Regions from separate parts of the Homo sapiens genome. Here region 1 is linked to region 2. The links come from fine-mapping of genetic effects on gene expression. A gene starts in region 2. The other region holds a variant in brackets. All regions are shown on one strand. Distances are from middle to middle.

What was found.
Region 1: its variant is fine-mapped to the expression of IQSEC3 in whole blood (INTERVAL, PIP above 0.99). The same link has a PIP of 0.9 or more in nucleus accumbens.

What each region holds. Positions count from the first base shown.
Region 1 is chr12:135,418-146,508 of GRCh38, reverse strand. It overlaps IQSEC3 (IQ motif and Sec7 domain ArfGEF 3), which reads right to left. Exons shown (of 14, transcript NM_001170738.2): 4 at 7,155-8,242; 5 at 5,224-5,385. It overlaps IQSEC3-AS3 (IQSEC3 antisense RNA 3), which reads left to right. Exons shown (of 10, transcript NR_033859.2): 2 at 1,940-2,200; 3 at 3,100-3,270; 4 at 3,876-5,175; 5 at 5,265-5,597; 6 at 5,706-5,861; 7 at 6,139-6,269; 8 at 7,865-7,958; 9 at 8,057-8,209; 10 at 8,882-9,098. Among named protein-coding and RNA genes, the nearest start is that of IQSEC3-AS3, 8.2 kb to the left of the region's middle. RefSeq lists enhancers at 343-842, 843-1,344. The variant C/T (reference allele first, on the strand shown) is at 6,388.
Region 2 is chr12:60,338-71,428 of GRCh38, reverse strand. It overlaps IQSEC3 (IQ motif and Sec7 domain ArfGEF 3), which reads right to left and starts at 4,662. Exons shown (of 14, transcript NM_001170738.2): 1 at 3,993-4,662. The coding sequence starts at 4,546.

The DNA.
Region 1 (11,091 bases), 75 kb before region 2:
ACACCTGGCTACTTAAAAAAAATTTTTTTGTAGAGATGAGGTCTCTTTTGCCCAGGCTGGAGTGCAGTGGTGCCGTAAGAGCTCACAGTAGCCCTAACCTCCTAGGTTCAAGTGATTCTGATGCCTTGGCCTCCCAAAGTGCTGCGACCACAGGTGTGAGCCACAATCCCTGCCTGGGCCTCTTTTTATCTCCTCCGGACACATAAGGTCTGCCTGGGCCCCAGCCTGCTCTCCCCTTCCTCATGGGAATTCCTCAGGAATAAGGTAACTGAGATTATACACAGCAATGTGGGCAGGACATTCTCAAATGATTTCTTCCTAGCAATGAAAGGCCAGAGCCTTCCAGACTGTTGAATTTGACAGACAATCTGTCTTCATTTCTAAACGTCCTCTAAGAAGAACAAATCTGTTATACTCTGGCCAACATATTTCCATGGAAATAAAATAATGAAATCTGACCCAAACGTCAAACCCTGATATGTCTTGGAATTTAACAAAGGATGGAGCAGACGCAGTGGAGGGAAGGAACACCCAGGAAGCTTTCTTCCGGCAGCTCAACCCAGAAGCTGCCTTCCTGCATTTCATGGAGATGGTAGACACCAATGCTCTCCACGTGCATGGGATTCACACCAGAAAAAATCATCCAGGCCAGAAAGAGGCCGCTCACAGCCAGCATGGAACGTTCCCCATCCGCTGGACTTTAAACCTGCTGAAGCGAACATTTCAGAAAGGAAATAGAGCAGAGCCAAATTCCCCAGCCATGTGAAAACCGAGAGGGAGAGGCTTCCAGCCCTAGAGGGCCCTAGCTCTGGCTGCTGTCTGGCTCCTGCCGCTGGCCTGCCACCGCGTGACTCTCAGCTTCTGGACCGGGCTTCCTCAGGCTGCAGGATGCTCCCCAGATTGAGCTGACCCCCTTCCCAGCAAAGCCCAGCAAGTTCCAGCAAGTTCTCATTGTCTGCCTAGTAGACCTGAGTTTGAGTCATGTTTGAGGAGGTTTCCTTGTGCGCGGGGAATGGGATGGCGGGGAGTGGAGGGTTCTAATGTCTGTGCTTTTAAGTAGAAAAGATAATAATGAAATAGCTAACATTTAGCCTGTAGTCCCAGCTACTCAGGAGGCCGAGGTAGGAGGAGCACTTGGGCCCGGGAGTTCAAGTTGCAGCGAGCTTTGATCATGCCACTGCCCAGTAGCCCTGGTGACAAAGAGAGATCCTGTCTCTAATAGAAAAAGAAAAGAAAGAGCTAACATTTACAGATAACTTACTAAGCATCAGGCACTTCATGTACATTGAAAACGTTTGATTCATATGAGACAGGTACTCTTACCAGCATTTTACTAATGAGGAAACTGAGGCTGATTTCTTCTCTAAAAACAAACAGGCTGGGCCTAGTGATTCATGCCTGTAATTCCAGCATTTTGGGAGGCTGAGGTGGGAGCACTGTGTGAGGCCAGGAGTTTGAGACCAGCTGGGCAACACAGTGAGACCCCCATCGCTACAAAAATATTTAACAATTAGCCAGGTGTGGTGGCACATGCCAGTGGTTTCAGCTCTTCAGGAGGCTGAGGTGAGGGGTTCTCTTGAGCCTGGGAATTTAAGGCTGCAGTGAGCCATGGTTGCACCACTGCACTCCAGGCAACAGAGCAAGACTCTGTCTCAAAAAAACCAAAAGCGAAACCTTTGCAGGTAAACACTGGAATGGGTGTGGCTCTTTGAGCTCAGAATGCCTTCTATTATTGTCATTTGATAAGGCCTGGTAAGAATACATTCCTTCTTGGAATGTGTCTTCTGTGAAAATAAGATACAAAAGGATGGAGATGTCAGCTTCCAAGAGCGCTGAGGGCCGAATTCTGAAAGCAAATGTCACAGCATTCATGATGCTCAGACACAGACCAGCAGCCGAGGTGGCAGCTGCTCTCTCCCTCCTCTTCCTTTCCGCACAGGCCTGACGGTTGGGAAGCACACCCTTCCCCTCTCAGAGGCTTTCTCATCGGCTCTTCCTCATCGGCTGCTTCTTGGGAGAGTGCTGCGGTTTGGGCTGTTTTAGTCTCCAAGGGGATGGGTGATTTATATCCTTTTATTCGGCAAACAGCTTTGTACAGAATGAATACCGCTTGCTGAATGTCACCAGGCGGGGGCAGGGGAGCCGTATAGAATCCCAGTGAAGCCTTCCAGGCCTGGGCAAAATGGCACCTGGCGACTCGGTTAGTGTGTGTGTTTTCTCCGGCGGGAGTAAGGAAGACACAGTCAGAGTGGAAGGGAAATGCAAAGACTCCAGCGCCCCCCTCCCCTGCTAGTGCCTGCCACTTTCTGCTTCTCCATCTTCTCCTGCCCTTTGCAGGACAGGGCCCTCTCCACCTCGGAGAGAAGCAAGGCAGTCAGTGACCTATGGACTTCAGGGAGGGGCTCCTTTCTGTGGCGCTGAGTCAGCATGCCAGGCCTGCAGGGCTACACAATCAAGCATGAGGGATTGCGGCTTTCACCAGGGCATATCAGGGCTTAGCTCTGCACTCAACCTTGCCCAAGCCAGGGTTCCGGCTGGAGGCCCCTTGCTCTTCTCACTCTCTTTCCATGCTCCTGCTTCTCACCTCTCCCCATCCACACCTGGGTCTGTACGTTCCCTGAGACTGTGAGCCATGCCTCTTCACACACACACACACACACACACACACACACACACACACACGGGTGCCCAGCGTGGCCCCATTCTCAACACACAATAAATAAGTGCTCGATGTTTGTTGAATGAATAACAAATGGCCAACTCATTCCCCCATGAACCCTGGCACCCCAGCACTGCCCTGCATGAACCCTGGCACCCCAGCACTGCCCTGCATGAACGCTGGCACCCCAGCACTGCCCTGCATGAACGCTGGCACCCCAGCACTGCCCTGCATGAACTCTGGCACCCCAGCACTGCCCTGCATGAACTCTGGCACCCCAGCACGGCCCTGGGGCCTGTGGGCTGCTCTGGCAGGATGACAAATCATGCCCCAGTGTTTAGGGCAGTGCTACCAATGCACTAAGAGATGGGAAAGGTGGTAGATTCTCAGGACTTGGAGAAACTTTTGCAATCACATCGCCCAGCCCTCTCATTTTACAGATGAGGACACCGAGGCCCAGAGAGGTGTCCTGCCAAAGCCACACAGCACAGAGGAGCAGAGCCCGGGTCCAGCTATTTCTCCTATCTCACCACGCTGCCTCTTCTCACTGGAAGAGTGTACCAACGCGGGAGTCTGGCCCCTACCCATCCCAAGCCTGATCCCTACCTAAGGTTAGCCCAGCCCCCAGCCCCCAGCCCAGCTCCCCTCCTCAGCACAGGCTTGCAGCCACTGCTCCAAGCCTCCAGCCCACAGCCCATACACGCAGCCTCCCAGGGAAGAGGGCAATTAGTTTCCATTGTGCGACTCAGCACCACCTGGGCTGCAGGAAAACGCTGTGTTCCCAGCACTCCAGATCAATGTGGGCCTTGCAGGTTAGAATTTAGGGCGCAGGCCACATGGAGACTGGGAAAGACAGAAGAAAACAGACAACAGTCAGGGCCTGTGGGTGAAGCAGAGTCACTCCTGCCCCCAGAGCAGAGAGACAGCAGGGGTGCCTGGGGCTACGGGGCCAGCACCTCACCCTGGCTTGGGAAGGGATGGACTGGGACAACAGTGCAGGAAAGCCAGAGAGATGAGCCAACTAGGGGACACAGAAAAGGAAGGGCGTGAGGAAATGCCATCTCTCCCCTTCTGCAACCTAGATGTATCCTGGATCCCAGTAGCACCTCCATGGGCCCCCACAGCAGTGCTGGGGAAGGGAAGGGAAGCCGGAGGGAGAAGAGAAAGGAGGTGAGAGGGAGGCGCTGCCTAGCATTGTCTCTCTTTCCTCTTTGAGGTCCACAGAGCGTCTCCACCAGCAGCTCCAGGAGGGATGATAAATTGTCAAAAGCCACCAAGAGTCAGGGACAGGAACTCAGTTCTGCCCAGCTGAGGGCTGTGCAGGGATTTCAAGGTACCTGTGCGAACCCCAGCCCTCACTCATTGAACTCAGTCAGAAAACCACCGCGTCAGTGGATTTAGAAATGTGACAGGGATTTCAGAGGGCAATGGGTCCAGCCCTCACAACCCAGCACCACTCTGCAGGCATGGAAACGCAGGCCCAGAGGACAGGGGCTTCTCAATATGGGCACACAGCACCAAGACAGCTCCATAAATAGAAGTGAAATATCCAAGCTCCCACTCCAGGGAAGCTGACCACTGGGTGGATGACTCCCCCAGCGTCCAAACCCTCTCTGGCAGTCCCTTGCTGCTCCAGGAGCGAGGATGAAAGGGAGAGCTCTTCCCAGGGCCTCCGGGGAGACACTTCTGCTGACTGTCCCCAAGGAGAAAGAGGGGAGAGAAATGAGGGAGGGTCCCTGAAGAATGGAGACCTTCAAGAAGGAGGCCAACCTCGGGGACCAGTGGAAGCCAGAAAGAGCACGGGGGCATGGCAGGGGCTGAAGCCGATGTCCCAGGGAAGGAGTAGCTGCAAGGCCCCTCAGCCTCAGAGGAGCGCCAGCCCCGCCCTGCCATTCTGGACAAGGCATGAGTGTGAAGAGACTCTTGCCTGTCCACACTATCAAGGCTGAGCGGGGGCAAAGGCAGCCCCCTGGGGGTCCCCACCCTGCTACTGGACTTTAAAACCATTTTCTTTGGTTTTAAAGAAACAATTTTTCTTTGGTCATGATTTTGTTGGTAGATTTATCTTTATGGAATTGTAGTATTTTCTTGCTCTAAAACCCTCAGTTTAACCCCTTCTTTTTTCTGTCTCACATTTTTGCCTCCAGCGATATGAAAATGAACCTTGGAGAATGGGAGGGTCCTGGGGGAGGGGGGCTGAGGGGCTCTTCACCAGGCAGAGATGAACCCCAGTGCTGACACAAGCCCTTTCCTTTTCCTGGTTTCTCTTGCCCTGGAGAGTGACAGGCAGAAAGGGCTTTTTGTCTCTTTGGACCATTTCTGTATCCCTGCTGCCTCAAACGAAGCCTGGCCTGGGGCGAACTCAATCAATGACTCTGACGGGAGACAGGGCTCCGGCCCACTGGGGTGATGGGCTAAAGAGGGGATTCTGGTTCCTGTGGACAATCTGGAAGCTGGAAGCTGTTAGAACTGGAGCGAGGATTTCACCAAGGAGCTCACAGAGAGAGCCCGGGCAGGTGGGGTGTGGGAAGGAGTGGGGAAAGCCCGGAGTGTGGGGTACTCACTCCAGCACGTCGCGGTTGAACTGCTTCTTGCTGTTGCCCAGGAACTCTCCAATCATCTGGCGGCTGAGGCCCTTTCGCTGGAGGAGGAAATGGGCCACACCGATGGGGGTGTCCGGGATGAAGCCGCGTGAGATCAGGAACTGGATGCCCTTGTCGGGGTTTCTGGAGGTGGGGGTGGGGAGAAGCAGTAGAGAGTGAGCTGAAGCCATCCATGACTCTTTCCTCCCTGTCTTCCACCCATAGAAGTACCCAGAGGTTCTTGGAAATCCAGTTCCCCATTGAAGCTTCTCTCACCAGAGCCTCAACCCACTGAATGTCCTCACGCAGAGGATGGTGTGTGACCAGAAGGAGGACAGGGGAGATCTGCAAACAAAGTGAATTCCAGAGCAGATGGAGGAGAAGTACCCTTCTCTGTCCCTGCCTCCTGGGTCTTACCCCAGTCCTGCCCTTCCCCCTACCCATATCCTGTTGTCAATATGCAGGTCCCCACCGCAGACGCCCCAACCCTGGAGAGAGGGTGGGAGAAACAGAGGTGAGACCTCCGCCACACCACCTCTTCCCTTTGCAAGCTTTGAAGCCATGCTGCTCCCTGAGCTGTTCCTCACAGGTCCGGGAGGAGATAAGTACAGAAACACAAGGTAAGCACTGAGAACCTCCCATAGCATTTCGACATTTTCCGGGACAGCCAGGCATGTGATTGTCTTTCTAGCACCTCATTTTTATTGTATTTTACAAAAGTATTAGCCCACAATGTATTTTCAGAAGGGTGTGGGGGAACAAAACTGGTTCTTCACTATGGATAGTTTAAGAATTCCTGTCTTGGGGCAGATGAGTGTCTGTATGAGTTTTCATGTGCATGCAGAAGAGACACTGCAGAAGTGGGAGTGGTTCAGAGTCAGATCCGCCTTTCCCTAGGTCTGCCGAGTACTAGCTATTTCATCGTGTGCATTTCGCCTTACTGGTGTGAGCCGGCTTCTTTTCTGTAAAACAGCATGGTAATACCTCTGTGTAGATACTGCTGGAAGATTACAGATGCTTTATGTAAGGTGAGCTATGAACAGTAGCTACTTCCCCTAGAATAGGAGCCTCTTGAGGCCAGGGGATGTGTCCTTCTCACCTCTGTGGTCACAGTGCCTGGCACCCAATAAATAACAGCCGAATGAA[C/T]GAATGAACACGCATTAGGGCCGGGGAGATGTGCTCTTGGCGCAGGGTTATGAAGGGGCGAGTGGAGGATGGAGGCGAGTGCCTGCCTCCTGGACCTGACATTTCCATGGGAGGGGCAGGTGTGCTTCCTTTCCTCTGCTTGGGACTGGCTGTATACATTCGGTGCAGGACCAGTCCCGGTCTCGCTGGGGTCTCTGAGCTATGGCGGTCGGTCATTTCTCCCCTGTTCTCTTTCTCCTGTGCCTCTGCCTGCTTCACACTCTCTCTTCCTCGTAGCCCTCCCCTCTCCTGCTCTCAGCCGGCATTCTTTACGAGGCGCCTCTCCTCCCTCCCCCACCCAGCCTCGCATTTCACCAACCCTGGGAGCTAATGCGTTTTCCCTGGCTTCATATCCACCCGAATGATTGCTGCGTAATCCTCAAACGGCCTGGACTGTTATTTACTTAATACTGTCTTTTCTTTTACATTCTCTTACTTTTCAAACCCTAGCTTCATCTTAAGCTGTAACAGTTGTGAAAGCATGTGTCTGATGTGTTATTTTTTTCCTTTAATCTTTCTTAAAATAAACTCAGGATGATTAAAATAAAATATGTACTTCCTAAACATGACCTCAGGGATCAGGCACGGCACAGATGCGCCTGCCTGGAGGACCCTGGCATGACGTGGGAAGTTACCTGGCGCCCTGCTTGGTGGAGGGAAGGTGCCCTCCTCCTTCCCTCCCTCCCAGGACGCCCAGGACTCCGGGCTGGGGGCCGGGGCTGACTTACATGTTGAAGAGGTTGAGGCCGATGCGGTAGAGCCGCTTGCGCAGGGTGTCGGTGGAGAGCGTGGGCGACTTGCAGCTGGCTGGGTTCTCGCAGTGGTAGCGCGGCAGGCTCAGGATCATGGCCTGCAGGGCGTCCTTGGAGGCGGAGGCCGACGCCTCCGAGCCTGACTTGGCGGACTTGGTGGACGTGCTGCTGCTGCTCAGCTGCTCCAAGTCGCCTGCCTCGGCCTCGGCCCCTCTCCCCACCTCCGCCGTCTCCTCCTCCTCCTCTTCCTCCTCTGTTTTGGGGGCTGTGGCCCCATCCGCCGCCCCACTAGCCGCAGCCTCTGCGCATGAGTCCTCGGCTGACGCGTCCTCCCGGCCCACGGCGGGGGCTTCCGGGGCCTCCCGCCCAGAGGTCTCGCCCTGCTCGGCCTTGCCCGCCGCGGGCTCTGCGGGGGCCTGGACCGTCTGAGCGCCCAGGCAGTTGGCCACCGACAGAGCCGTGGAGGAGGAGACGGATATGTTCTGGTTGGCGATCTGCACCGTGACGTCCCGGAAAGCCATCATGAGGGTCCCGCTGTGGGCCGGGGGCAGGCCGGGGGTCTCCGCGGCGTCATCCCCGGGCCCGGGGCCCGCGCTCTCCGGCGCCCGCCCCTCGGCCTCCAGGCCTGGGGGCCCCGCGGCCGCCTGCAGGGCCTGGTGGAGCTGGTAAGCGCCACTCTCCCGCAGGGAGCACATGGTCTTGAGGCTCCACGTGCTGAGCGCGTCGTCGATGGACTTGGCCAGGGATTGCACCTGCTCGGTGAAGGAGTCCTCCAGCTCGGTGAGGGTGCCTGCGAAGGTGGGCGGCAGGGAGGGCGAGCGCACCAGCGGCAGCCCCACGAGGCCGTAGCCCTCCATGAGCGCTTTCTCGGCCGCCAGGCTCTCGGCCGTGGGTGACCGCACCTTGCGCAGGGAGATCCGCCGTGGCAGGCGGCTCTCCAGAAGCGAGTTGCGGATTTTCTCGAAGTTCTTGCTGAGCTGGTATTGGCGGAAGGCGGTTTGGATGGTGCAAGCGGCGCGCCGGGACACCAGGTGACCGCCGTACTTATGTTCTAGCATTTCAATCTGCAAGGACGAGGACAGAGAGGAGGAAGGGCTCAGAGGGGAAGGGTGGTCAGCCCTTCTGAGGAGTGGTGGAGTCACCCGGCCACACTCGGGTGGGGCCCAGGAATGGACGGGGGCGGGGGGGCGCTCCTGGGCAGCTAAAGTCTGAACCGCCTAGAACGTCCTGGCCACGTGGCAAGACTCCTAGAGGTGTAGGACGGAGGGGTCCGTTCTGGGGACTAGTGATGTCTCAAGGGCCAGGAGGGAGGTGCTGCATATGGCGTTCAGATATCGATGCTGTGGCGGGTATTACAAAATGTTCATGGCCGGGCGCATTAGCTCAGGCCTGCAGTCCTAGCATCTTGGGAGGCTAAGGAGAGAAGATTGCTTGAGCTCAGGAGTTTGCGACCAGGCTGGGCAACATAGCTAGACCTTGTCTCTCTCTTGAAAAAAAAAAAAAAATTAACTGGGTGTCCTGGTGCGCGCACGCCTGTGGTCCTCAGCTACTGGGAAGGCTGAGGTGGGAGGACTGCTTGAGCCCAAGGAGTTGGAGATTACAGTGAGCTATGATTGTACCACAGCACTCCAGCCTGGGCAAAACAGTGAGACCTTGTCTCTGTTTTTTTCTTTTCTTTTCTTCTTTTTTTTTTTTTTTTTAAGTTCATGTCAGAGATGCATACAGAAGTACTTATGGGTAAAATGCATGATATCTTGAAGTTGTGTTAAAATATTCTGTCAAAAAATGTGGAAGAGTTAGATGACACAATATTAATGTTAATAAATATTAATAAAATGGTTACAGCTGGATGATAGCTACGGGGGAGTTTATAACACTGTCGTTTCTACTTTTGTGCACACTTTAAAACAATAAACAATGAAAAACAGAAATGCTAAAAAACCTCACAGCTCCTCGTGCTTCCCCGCTCCTCCCCTAAACAATGAAAAACATAAATGCTAAAAACCCTCACAGCTCCTCGTGCTTCCCTGCTCCTCCCCAGCAACCATGTCTCTGTGTTGGGGTGGCTCCTTTCCCTGGGAACATCAGAAGGGTCGGGATTGGGGTTGGACCATCTGTGTGTTCCCAGTACATAGTTAGCTGCTCAGTAAACGTGGATTTGCTAAAAAGTTGAGTGGGTGTCTCAAGAATGGGGGTCCCTCCAGGCCACCATTACCAAGAGTTCCCCAATTTGAGTCACCTCTGCTCTTACGGTGGGAGCTGTCCAACCAGGGCAGGGCTGGGTGGGGTGGGCTCGGGGGCATGGCACCTCACCTGGGCAGATCTGATCCCAGGAAAACTTCTGTCAGGGGGCCAGCGTGCCTCCTCTCGGCTCTGTCCTCCTGTCCGTGGGTTTTCTCCTCTCAGGTTGCTACGCTCTCACTTTTCCTCCCTATGGAAACTTCTCAGGAAAGGACTGGGGAGGTATGACAGCCATGCCCCCAGAGGCTTCTGCCTTTAAATAAGGGACAAGGCCTGTGTGAAGGTGATGGGCTTAAATGGTGGCATCCTAGACTCTGATCAGCCCTCAGAGAAGTTTGGGAAGTGCGAGTGTTTCCTATTCACAACCAGACATGCCACTTACACGTGGTGTCCTTCCCGAATGAACGAAGAATCGGGATGGGTGCGCTGAGATGAACGACTCAAGGCAAGAACAGGGACGTCCCGTGTTCTCCAGGGATCATGGGTGGGGAGGGTACAGATTGTTCTCCAGGGATCATGGATGGCGAGGGTACAGATAGAAAGGCCATACTTCATCCCTCAGCACAACACTTCAACCTGCTTCCTGCTCCACTGGAGCCCCCAAAGGCTGCAGCCAGAATGAATGCCTGCCTCCCACAGCCCAGCCGTGCCCTCTGCTCCCTCCCTGCAGGGTGTGATGGGTGCCCCATTCCACGCTAGCAGAGGTAGCCTCTTAGCTCAGGACACCTTGTGGATTCAACCCCAATCCCCAAGGACAATCCCAGATAAAATGAGACATCCTTAGTGCTTGCCTCCAGTGCTTCCAGCCTGGCCATTCCCATTCCCCATTCCCAAACCTGGGGACATCATTCTGTCTCCCCCAACATCCAACTCTACCCTTGGAGATCGTTGGAACTCACGCAGATTAATGTGTAAATGGCAACTAAGCCTTCCTATATGGCTTCTCCCAAAGTTACTTGCATTTCATGAGGGACAAGGCCCTGAGCAGGAGGAAGCTCCCAGTGCTATCACAATCCCCCTATTGGAGGGGTCTTCAAGGTGCTCTAAACCACACCAAGTGTATTCCTCATCTATTGCTGTGTAACACATGACCACAAATCCAGCCACTTAAAGTAGCACCTGTTTATTTCTCATGCAGCTCTGTGAATCTAGTCTGGGCACAGCTCATCTGGGTTATCTGCTCGGGATCTCACCAGGCTGAAACCAAGATATCAGTCAGGGCTGCAATATCATCTAAGGTGTGGGGTCCTCCTTTGAGCTCGCTCTTGTTGGCACAATTCAATTCCTTGTAATCACAGGACTTAGGCCCTCAGTCACTAGAGGTTGCCTGCTGTCCCCTACCATGTGGCCTGCTTCATAACCTGATAGCTTGGTCCTTCAAGGCTAACGGCACAGTGTCTGTCTGGGGCTTCAGCTTCATTTATAGGGCTGACCTGATTAGCTCAGACCCACCCTGGGTGATGTTTCTTTTTATTAACTCAAAATCAACCAATTGGTAACCTAATCATTGGAGTGATGTCCCATCACATTCACTCATCCTGCCCATACTCAAGGGAAGGGGATTATATAGGATGTGTACACTAGCATGAAGGGGACTTGGGGGCCATCTGAGAATTTTGCCCACGGTACGAACTGGACACTTCCCCACTTGATCTTTACTAGGTATGACCTC
Region 2 (11,091 bases):
CTTGTTTAGGCATTTCTAGATATGTGTCTCTTTTATTTTGAGCAAGGACCATTTGCTTCTTTCCAATCTTTCCACAGCACTGAGTGCAGGGTTTTGAATAGACTGGACACTTGATACATATAGTTGACTGACAGACCTTCACACTTTCTTTCTTAATAGTTTCCAGGATGGGCCAGTCATGAGCTATCACCTTCAAGCATGCAACTCTGACTCAATAGGAGCAGAGATCCCAGTTCCCATCAGCATCTTAGACAAATCAGGATAAAAAGCACATCCAGAACTCTTCTAGCTATCCCCAGCCTCCAGCCAGAATGAGAAGAGGGAGCTCAAAAGATACTCAAGATTGATTTTGTGTTTAAAGGATAAGGGTAGAGAAGAAAGAGATTTCCCTGTGTAGCTTATGTGGAAGAAGGATAGAAGGAAGAGAAGATGGGAGAGATAAAGTGTTTGGGGGAGAGGTAGAAGGGGAGAAGAGAATGAAGGAAAAAGGGTAGTGAGGCAGAGGAGGGATGTGAAAGGAAGAAGCAATGTAACAGAGAGAAGACAGGAGCTGTGGAGCCCTTCAGACTTCATAGTCATATTGAGGTTGGGATTTGGAGTAGGAGATGAATTTGAATGGGGATGCAAGAATTTATCCTCCAGCAATCATCTGCCTGTGGCCTTGGAGACATGGACAAGCCCTGTCATCCATGGACACTAAACGCATGACTGGTGGTTGGGCAAATGTGCTTAGAAGCCACTGAAGCCAGCCACTTCAGATAAGTTCATGTGCTTCCATGGCAAGAGGATTTGTCAGGTCAAGTTGAGGTTCTGGCACCAGCCAGGAAAGGGATAGTAATAAATTCTGTAGATGCCGTGAGCCTTGATTGAAAAAATAAGGAGGAGGAAGCTATGTTTGCTGCTTTCATTAAGAGGCAAAAGCAGTGGGGGTCAGAGCTTAGCAAGAATCAAGAAGCATGCAGAGAAATAATTTTAACCCTTCAAATGTTTTTCTTCCATAATATCTCTGCATTCACTCACCCACATATTGCTGCTTTCTTGGACTGACCTCCAAGACCACCACCTTTGTGTCTCCCTCAGCTGAAGGAGGGAGAGAGGCCAGATTATGTATTAATGCAGATAAGATGGCAATTAAATGATTCATTATTTTCCAGTCCCAGTTATCTAGGGCTTCTGCCTCTCCTGGAATTGGGTAGGAAGAGGAGTTCTGGGGATAAAAGTCAAACTGTGTGAGGACATAATGCATCTACCAGAGTGCCTGGCCTCTGGAAACCCTCACCCACTCTTCAGCCACCTCAGTGGGGTCGCGTTCTTGCTGAAAGGAGGCCAGAGGAAGAATGAGGGAGGATTCACAGGAAACCCATGATTGGAAGACCCACTGTGCCATCTCTTCCTCCCGCTTCAGCACTCCCAGTAGAGAACCAGTTCTGCGGGGAGCTCCCCAGGAGCAATACCAGGGAGGGGGCTGCTGGCTCTGCTCTCCTCCTCCTCACCTCTCCCTCTCCATGGAGATCTCTGTCTGCCTGCTGGCTCCATCTTGTCCTGCATCATAGACAACTATGGGCAGAGGAGAACAAACATACAAAACGGGCCACGGGCAGAGAGCAGGGTAGGACGAAACATGTCATTAGCAATGGTGATTCCGTCCTGAGCTCTGTGGGGAAATTGGTGTTGAAGTTGGGCCACTGTGGGGAAAGAAATGAGTGGTCCAGAAGATATTCAACCAGCCAAGATTACCATGTTTTCACATCCAAGGAAGGAGAGCTGCAGGGATGAGGGGAGGCAGGCACATCTATGGTCTCTATGTTTCTGAGTGTGCAGGATTGGGGAGCAGGAGAAAAAGCTGGAGAATCTGGAGAAAGTAAGGCATTACTGTTAAGTGCCTGGGGCAACTTTCTAAGTGAAAGATTCCAATAACTTCCACTCTGCTCCACCATGCTAATTATTTTTTATTTTTGTTCTGCTCCTTTGGGAAGCAAAAGCAGGACAGGTGAGAAGGAAAGGTGAGGATATTATAACTCCTCTCCAGAATTGACATGTGGAGCTGGACAGGAGCCCAGATGATTCCTAAATCCCAGGATTCCGAGCAGGACCAACTGAGTGAAAGGGTTTGGGTTCCGTAGGCCACTCTGAAGGCTATGGCTATGTCTTTGTCTAAGAAAAATAATCTTTCCTCAACTCTTCTTGGCCACACAGTGCCCTGAAGAGATGCAAAGAAAGTGGAGTTGCAGTGGGAGAGACAGGAGACACCAAAAGTCATGAGGAGAGAAATCATAATGACCAGGTAGCTGTGGCTGCCCTCAGGGAAGGGGACTGGAAAAATTCATCCCCTCATGTGGGGGAAAAGACCACTTAGTATCTTGGAACAATGTTGCCTTTTGCTGAGCCTTGGGCATTGAGGGAAAACTGACTTTCTGCTTTTTATGCCAGATAAGGAAAAAATAAAAATAAAAATGTGAAACTGAGGGAAGTACAAAGGGGTTTTGAGGGAGTTGGGGTAGAAAACTGTATCTTCTTGGGACTTGAATCAAATGTTTTAAGTCTGCCAAGCCAGATCATGTTAGACCTTCACCTCTTAGATCCTGTGGTTTTGATCAACGTGCTCTGTGAGCTACCCTGCCCTAACCCAACTTCTCTAACTCTACCACAGATGGTAAAAGAAAATGAGTTTTGAAGGAATACAGCAAATATTCACAAGTATCTCCCAGACTTAATGCACCTGGATGAAGATGAGATTCTCAGCTCTACTTCCCCCTCCCCATTCCCTTATGCATCACCATTGTCAAGGTCAGGTGCTGACCAGGGACAATTTCCCTTGAACTGTTCTTTGTTTAGTTCTCCATCACTTGCCTAATCAGAGAAAAGAAGCAGACATGGCCACAGCCTTTCCAGTACAGAGGAGAGAACATCCCAGACACTTTCATATCTTCTTCCCATATTCCTAGTTCATGGACCTCCTGAGTGAAGAAAGAGCTTGAAGTTCTAGGAACTGAGAGGTTAACATTTCTCTCAGGACCCAAGGCAAGATTTCAGTGATCACCAGATAACCGGGAAAAAAGGGTTTGCAGTTGCTGGCCTTAACAGGGAGATTTAAACAGGCATGGCATCTGAATACCAACTCCATCTGCCAACTGTCCCCCATGTCATTGCTCCCTTTCAACAACGGCCAAACACCCTGTATGAAAAACCCTCCTTGAGTTGGAGGAAAAAGCTGTAACCAGACTGAGTCCTCAAGCCATGCCTGAGTCCTCCATTGGTTTGATGGGATGTTCCCTTGCACCTCTTCGGCTCTGCGGGAATTCAGAGGAAGGGTGTCCAATCAGGTCAGAGAAGAGAAAGCTTCCCTAAATGAGCCACTCCTAGCTGTGGCTCCCACTTCACCAGCTAAAGAGCCACATTTTCTCTTCCTCTGCCTCCAGCTCCCTTGGTTTCCCACATCACTCCTGCTTTTCAGGTTTGTCCCCGGCCTCCTGGATTCCCCTCTACCCCAGTCCTACTCTTCCTGGGCCCCAGCCTTTTTAAAGCTCTTCACATGCCTCTTTCCAAGCCTTCAGCTTTTCTCACATCTCAGTCTCCATGCAAATACTTTTACTACCCAAACTTCCTTCCAAATTTTTTCTCACTTAAAAAGATTCCTTCAATGGTTCTCTTTTCTACAGTTTAATCTTCACTCGAACTTCAACCCAGCCTAACCCCGTTTAAATGCTGTCAGTTCCCAGTATCACCAATCGCTTAACACCCACCTCCTTCCTCCTTTGCTCCTACTAATGGTCTGGTTACTCCTTTTTGCTCCAGCATTCCCCAAAACCTTCTCAAGCAGGGATATCGTTCCCTCATTTACCCAAAATCTCCTTTGCACACTTCTGGCGCCTTCAGGCCACATCACTCCGGTCCTTTAGACTCCTACGCACCCAACGTCCCCGTCTCTCCCTCACACCCACTTGCTTCCCTTGCTCCCACCACAACAGTGCCCATCTCCTCTCCCCGCTCACTCAGGTCTCCTGCTCAGGACGCCCTTGCCGAGGGCGGAGGGGGATTTGTGCTGAAGGAGGGCTCCGGCAGCAGCGCAGCAACTCGGGGGACGCTCCTTCTCCTTGTCAGTCACGGCCCCTTGTGTCCCCAGATGCTTGTGGGGCGACTGGGGTGTGTGAGCCCTGCTGCCAGGGCCCCGCTGGGGCTGCTCCAGGAGCTGTCCGTGGTGCTGACGCGGCGGCCGATCGGGCGCGGGATGCGGCGCGGCTGCTGAGCGCTGTCCCTGGTCCTGGAGAGGTTCCTGGGCCCTGGCGGCGGCGGCAGGAGCGGTGGCCGGAGCGGCCGGCAGCGGGGCCGATGACGGGGGGACGAGCCCGGGCGGAGGCTGGGCTTGCAGCAGCTGCTGGTGCTCCCACAGGCTGCGGTTCTCAGCGCTCAGCTCGTCCAGCCGCCGCTCCAGCTCGTCGATACGCTCTCGCTGGGTGTGGATGAGGCTCTGCTGGTTCTGCACGATGGCCGTGAGCTCCTTGAGGTAGAGCACGGCGCGCACCGGATTCTCCAGCAGGCTCTCCATGCCGCCCGCCGCCGCCTGCGCCCTGCCTGCGCCTGGGCTGGCGGCGGGGAGCGCGAGGGCGCGGGAGCCCAGCAGCCCAGCGGTCGGCTCGCCTCCCTCTCCCACCGGCCCAGCCTCCCTCCCCCCGCCGGCGCCGCGTCACTGCCACCCCGACCTTCACACACGCATCGCGGGGCGGGGCGGCTGCGCAAGGCCCCACCCCCACCCCACCCCCTACCTCCAGACCTCCCCAACTCCTCGCCTCCCCACCTCGCTGCCTCTTGGCGTCAGCGAAGGCTCTGCTGCCTGCAGGGCAGAGAGGAGAGGGAGGAGGCCAGCGAGAGGGAGCCTCTGTCGGGGCGTGGGAGGAAAGCAAGATAACGCAGGCGACCCGAGAAGGACGGTGAATCTGACTGGCCAGACTGGGAAGTAGGCGAAGGGGAAGCAGCGATACTGGGAAGGTGCGGTGGGACCTGTAGGAGAAGAGAAACAGAAAAGAAAGGAAGAGAAGGGGAGAGGCCAGCAGAGAGGAAGCAGAAAAAGGGAAGGTGGGGCCAAGAAAGAGAAATGTGCTGGAGGACAGGAAGGCGTGGGGCCCTGAAGGGACGCGAATTCTTTTTTCCCAGGTCCAGGCCTTCCAGAGGCTGGGGTTCATCTAGAGACCTGCTGAGGAGGGGCCACACTCGCCTCTTTTGCTCGCAGCAATCTATTCTGCCAGGGGATTCCCTGGAACACAAGAATCCTGGGGCTCTAAGGGACCCTAAAGAGCGTCTGGTCCTGCTCCTTCCTTCATCCGTGACGAAACTTGGGATGGGAAGGCTGTTCATGCTGGGTTTCCTCTGGGAGTGAGACCTCAAGACAACTGTGGCAGTTCCTGATAGAAACACTAAATAAACGAGGTCCTCTGTGGCAAGGGCTAACGCTTCCAGAAGCTTCTGAATAGATCATTCTATTTGACAAACAGTTATAAAATGCACACTATTACCAAACACTGTGCTAGATGGTGGTAAGAGAAGCATGACTAGAATGGAATGTTAGGCTTTTTGAAGCTTATAAATAAGTGGGTGAAATTGGTCATGATTAACTTTGACGTATGATAGTGGTGGTGAGTAATCAGGCAGAGGTTTGCCCAGAGTGCTATAGGAGCCAGCAGCTTGGAGATCCAGGGAGGCTTCTTACAGGAAGTGACCCTTGGTGTGGGAAGGGTTTTCCATAAAGGGAAGACAGCATGAGCAAAAGCTCAGAGACATTAATCAGCACCGATTGAATCATTCATTCATGTCTACAATAATCACCACTCACTAGGTGCAAAGTAATGTACAGAATCTATGCAAGCCACATCTAGCATAGATAATAAGTTATCATTTCTATAATCAAGTTGATTCCAATCTCATAGAGTAGATATGCCATGCACATGAATAAGTAAAACACAACTCAAGATTTCTGTAAGAGCTCTTCAAGCCAAGTGCCATAGAGTTCAGGGGAGGGAGAGGATTCATTTGACTGTGTTGATCTGATAAGTTCTGACAGAGGTGTTACTCAAGTTGGGCCACGAAGAATGGGAAATATTTCAACAGGTAGACAGAACAGGGGGCCAGATATGAGAAAGATACATCAGGCAGCAGGGAAAAAACTAATGAATGGAAATAGAGCACTTGGTTTAAATTAATTTGGCAGGGAAATATCCCTTTCCTTTTCTTTTCCTTTACTTTTTTTTTTTTTTAAAGTCTTGTCTGTCACCGAGGCTGGAGTGCAGTGGCAGGATCATAGCTTACTCCATCCTTGACCTCCTGGGATCAAGGAATCCTCTAGCCTCAGCTTCCTGAGTAGGTGGGACTACAGATGCATACCACCATGCCCCGTGAAGGAAATGAGTTGTTCTTTCCTCTTTTATAGGAATGGGATGGGAAGGAGGAAGGGCTATGAGTACGCTTCGCATGTTTGTTATTGTGTTGTTCCGTTCTTCACACACATGTCCATCAGGCTCCCTGTCAACCTTCCATTCCCCCAGGGTAGGCATATTTATGGGTACCATGTGCCCAGTGAGCTGGCCCACCCCCCACCACCACGTGGTGCCAGACTTGAATGACCTTATGAGAAGGAACTTGTGCTCTGCACATATATTGGTTTATCTGCATTCCTGATGTGTTTTTATTTTGCTTTTCTCCCATTTATCTTCCTAGCAAACTTTCTTTGGTAAAGAATGAATAAAGGAAGCTTATCCACAGCTGAGCTCACGGTTAGGGGAAACAGCACACAGGAGGATGCTTTGGTAGTGACCAGCATTCCAGCTAAAGAATGGAGGTTGGGGGATGAAACAAGGGCACACAAAAACTCAAACTCTTTTTTCTGAATTTTCTTTGTTTGCCTAGTTGATTTGCTGTCCAAGAATTGGGTGCTTGGACAGCAAATTAGAGACGAATACGATAAGTGAAACAGCCTGCAGCATAATTATCCATGCGGATTGTTGAAAATGCAGATTTCTGAGCCCTATATTGTAGCAGGACAAGCCGCAGACAAAATTCCTCAGACACCGAGTTAAAGAAGGAAGGGGTTTATTTGGCTGGGGGCATCGGCAAGACTCCTGTCTCAAGAGCTGAGCTCCCCGAGTGAGCAATTTCTGTCCTTTTTAAGGGTTCACAACTCTAAGGGGGTGCGCGTGAGAGGGTCGTGGTCGATTAAGCAAGCAGGGGGTACGTGACTGGGGGCTGCATGCACCGGTAATTAGATCGGAACACAACAGGATAGGGATTTTTCACAGTGCTTTTCTATACAATGTCTGTAATCTATAGATAACATAACCGATTAGGTCAGGGGTCGATCTTTAACTACCAGGCCCAGGGTGTGGCGCCGGGCTGTCTGCTTGTGGATTTCATTTCTGCCTTTTAGTTTTTAGTTTTTCTTTCTTTGGAGGCAGAAAATGGGCATAAGGCAATATGAGGGGTGGTCTCCTCCCATAATACCAGTCCTGCTGTATTGGAATCACTAGGAATGGGGACCAAGAATTTTTATTTTAAAAACTTTTTTCATTAAAAAAATCAACTTTGTTGACTTATAATTTATATCCAATGATATGCTCCCATTTTATGTGCACAGTTCAATGAATTTTGACAAATGTTCATGCCCTATTTTAGTCAGTTCCTCTCATCCTCAGCTCCAGTTAACCACTGACTTGCTGTCTGCCAGTATATGTTAGTTTTGTCTGTTGTGGAATTTCACATAAAAATCATACAGTATACACTACTTCGTGTCTTTCTTTTTAAATTTTTTATTATTTTAAAAATTACTATGATGATTTTTGTTTTAATAGTTTCTGGGGAACATGTGGTGTTTGGTTACATAGATAAGTTCTTTTGTGGTGATTTCTGAGATTTTGGAGCACCCATCACCTGAGCAGTGTACACCGTACCTAATGTGTAGTCTTTTATCTCTTACCCCACTCCCACCCTTCTCCCAAGTCCCCAGAGTCCATTGCATCATCCTTAAGCCTTTGAGTCCTCATAGCTTAGTTCCCACTTACACATGAGAACATATGATATTTGGTTTTCCATTCCTGAGTTACTTCACTTGGAATAATGATCTCCAACTCCATCCAGGTTGCTGCCAATGCCATTATTTCATTCCTTTTTAAATCCACTCATTGATTGATGGGCATTTGGGCTGGTTTCATATTTTTGCAATTGTGAATTGTGCTGCTATAAACATATGTGTGCAAGTGTCTTTTTTTCATATAATGCTTTCTTTTCCTCTGGATAAATACCCAGTAGTGGGATTGCTGGATCAAATGGTAGATCTACGTTTAGTTCTTTAAGGAATCTCCATACTGTTTTCCATAGTGGTCGTACTAGTTTACATTCCCACCAGCAGTGTAAAAGTGTTTCCTTTTCACCAAATTCATGCCAATATCTATTATTTTTTGATTTTTAAATTATGGCCATTCTTGCAGGAGTTAGGTGGTATCACATTGTGTGGTGTTTTTTGTTGTTGTTGTTTGTTTTGTTTGTTTGTTTTTGAGATAAAGTCTTGTTCTGTCACCCAGGCTGGAGTGCAGTGGCTCGACCTCAGCTCACTGCAACCTCCACCTCCTGGGTTCAAGTGATTCATCTGCCTCAGCCTTTGGAGTTCAAGTGATTCTCCTGCCTCAGCCTCCCAAGTACCAAGTAGCTGGGACTACAGGAGTGTACAACCATGCCCGGCAATTTTTGTGTTTTTAGTAGAGATGTGGGTTTCACCCTGTTGGTCTTGAACTCCTGACCTCAGGTGATCCACCTGCCGCAGCCTCCCAAAGTGCTGGGATTACAGGTGTGAGCCACGATGTCTGGCCAGCACTGTGGTTTTGATTTGCATTTCCCTTATCACTAGTGATGTTGAGCATTTTTTTCATATGTTTGTTGGCCATTTGTATATATTCTTTTGAGAATTGTTATTTATGTCCTTAGCCCACTTTTTGATGGGATTATTTGTTTTTTTCTTGCTGATTTGTTTGAGTTCCTTGTAGATTCTGGATATTAGACCTGTGTTGGATGCATAGTTTGTGAAAATTTCCCCCACTCTGTGGGTTGTCTGTTTACTCTGCTGATTATTTCTTTTGCTGTGCAGAAGCTTTCTAGTTTAATTAAGTCCTTCTATTTATCTTTGTTGCATTTGCTTTCAGGTTGTTGGTCATGAACTCTTTGCCTAAGCCAATGTCTAGAAGAGTTTTTCCAATGTTATCTTTTAGAATTTTTATGATTTCAGGTCTTAGATTTAAGTATTTGATTCATCTTGAATTGATTTTTGTATAAGGTGAGAGATGAGGGTGCAGATTTATTCTTCTACATGTGGCTAGCCAATTATCCCAGCACCACTTGTTGAATAGTGTGTCCTTTCCCTATTTTATGTTCTCATTTGCTTTGTCAAAGATCAGTTGGGTGTAAGTATTTGGCTTTATTTCTGGGATTGCTAGTCTCTTCCATTGGTCTGTGTGCCTATTTTTATACCAGTACCATGCTGTTTTGGTGATGATAGCCTGGTAGTATAGTTTGAAGTCAGGTAATGTGATGCCTCCAGATTTGATCTTTTTCTTTAGTCTTGGTTTGGCTATGTGGGCTCTTTTGTTCCATATGAATTTAAGGTTTTTTTTTTTTCTAGTTCTGTGAAGAACGATAATGGTATTTTGATGAGAATTGCATTGAATTTATAGATTGCTTTTGGCAGTATGGTCATTTTCACAATATTGATTCTATTCATTCATGAGTATGGGGTATGTTTCCATTTGTTTGTGTCATCTATGATTTCTTTCAGCAATGTTTTGTAGTTTTCCTTGCAGAGATCTTTCACCTCCTTGGTTAGGTATATTCCTAAGTATTTTATTTTATTTTTTGCAGTTATTGTAAAAGGGGTTGAGTTATTGCTTTGTTTCTCAGCTTGGTTGCTGTTGGAGTCTAGCAGTGTTACTGATTTGTGTACATTGATTTTGTATCCTGAAACTTTACTGAATTCATTTATCAGATCTCGGAGCTTTTTGGGTGAGTGCTTAGGGTGTTCTAGGTATACAATCATATCATCAGCAAATAGCAACAGTTTGACTTCCTCATTACCAATTTGGATGTCATTTATTTCTTTCTCTTGTCTGATTGCTCTGGCTAGGACTTCCAGTACTATGTTGAATAGAAGTGGTGAAAGTGGGCATCCTTACATTGTTCCAGTGCTCAGGGGGAATGCTTTCAGCTTTTTCCCCTTCAATATAATGTTGGCTGTGGGTTTGTCACAGATGGCTTTTATTACCTTAAGGTATGTTTTTTTCTATGTAGATTTTGTTGAGGGTTTTAATCATAAAGGGATGCTGGATTTTGTCAAATGCTTTTTCTGTGTCTATTGAGATGACAATGTGATTTTTTTAACAAAAATTCTGTTTATGTGGTGTATCACATTTATTGACTTGTGGATGTTAAACCATCCCTGTATCCCTGGTGTGAAACCCACTTGATCATGGGGGATTATCTTTTTGCTATGCTGTTGGATTTGGTTAGGTAGTATTTTGTTGAGGATTTTTATATCTATATTCATCAGGGACATTGGTCTGTAGTTTTCTTTTTTTGTTATGTCCTTCCCTAGTTTTGATATTAGGGTGATACTGGCTTTATGGAATTATTTAAGGAGGATTCCCTCTTTCTCTGTCTTTTGGAATAATTTCAGTAGAATTGTTGAGAATTCTTCTTTGAATGTCTGATAGAATTCAGTTGTGAATCCTTCTGGTCCTGGACTTTTTTTTTTGTTTGGCAATTTTTAAATTACCATTTGAATCTCACTGCTTGTTATTGGTCTGTTCAGAGTTTCTATTTCTTCCTGGTTTAATCTAGGAAGGTTGCTTATTTCAGGAATTTATCTGTCTCCTCTAGATTTTCTAGTTTAGCTTGTAAAGGTGTTCATAGTAGCATTGAATGATTCTTTGTATTTCTATTTTATCGGTTGTAGTATCTCCTGTTTCATTTCTAATTGAGCTTATTAGGACTTTCTCCTTCTTTTCTTGGTTAACCTCACTAATGATCTATCAATTTTGTTTATCTTTTCAAAGAGCCAGCTTT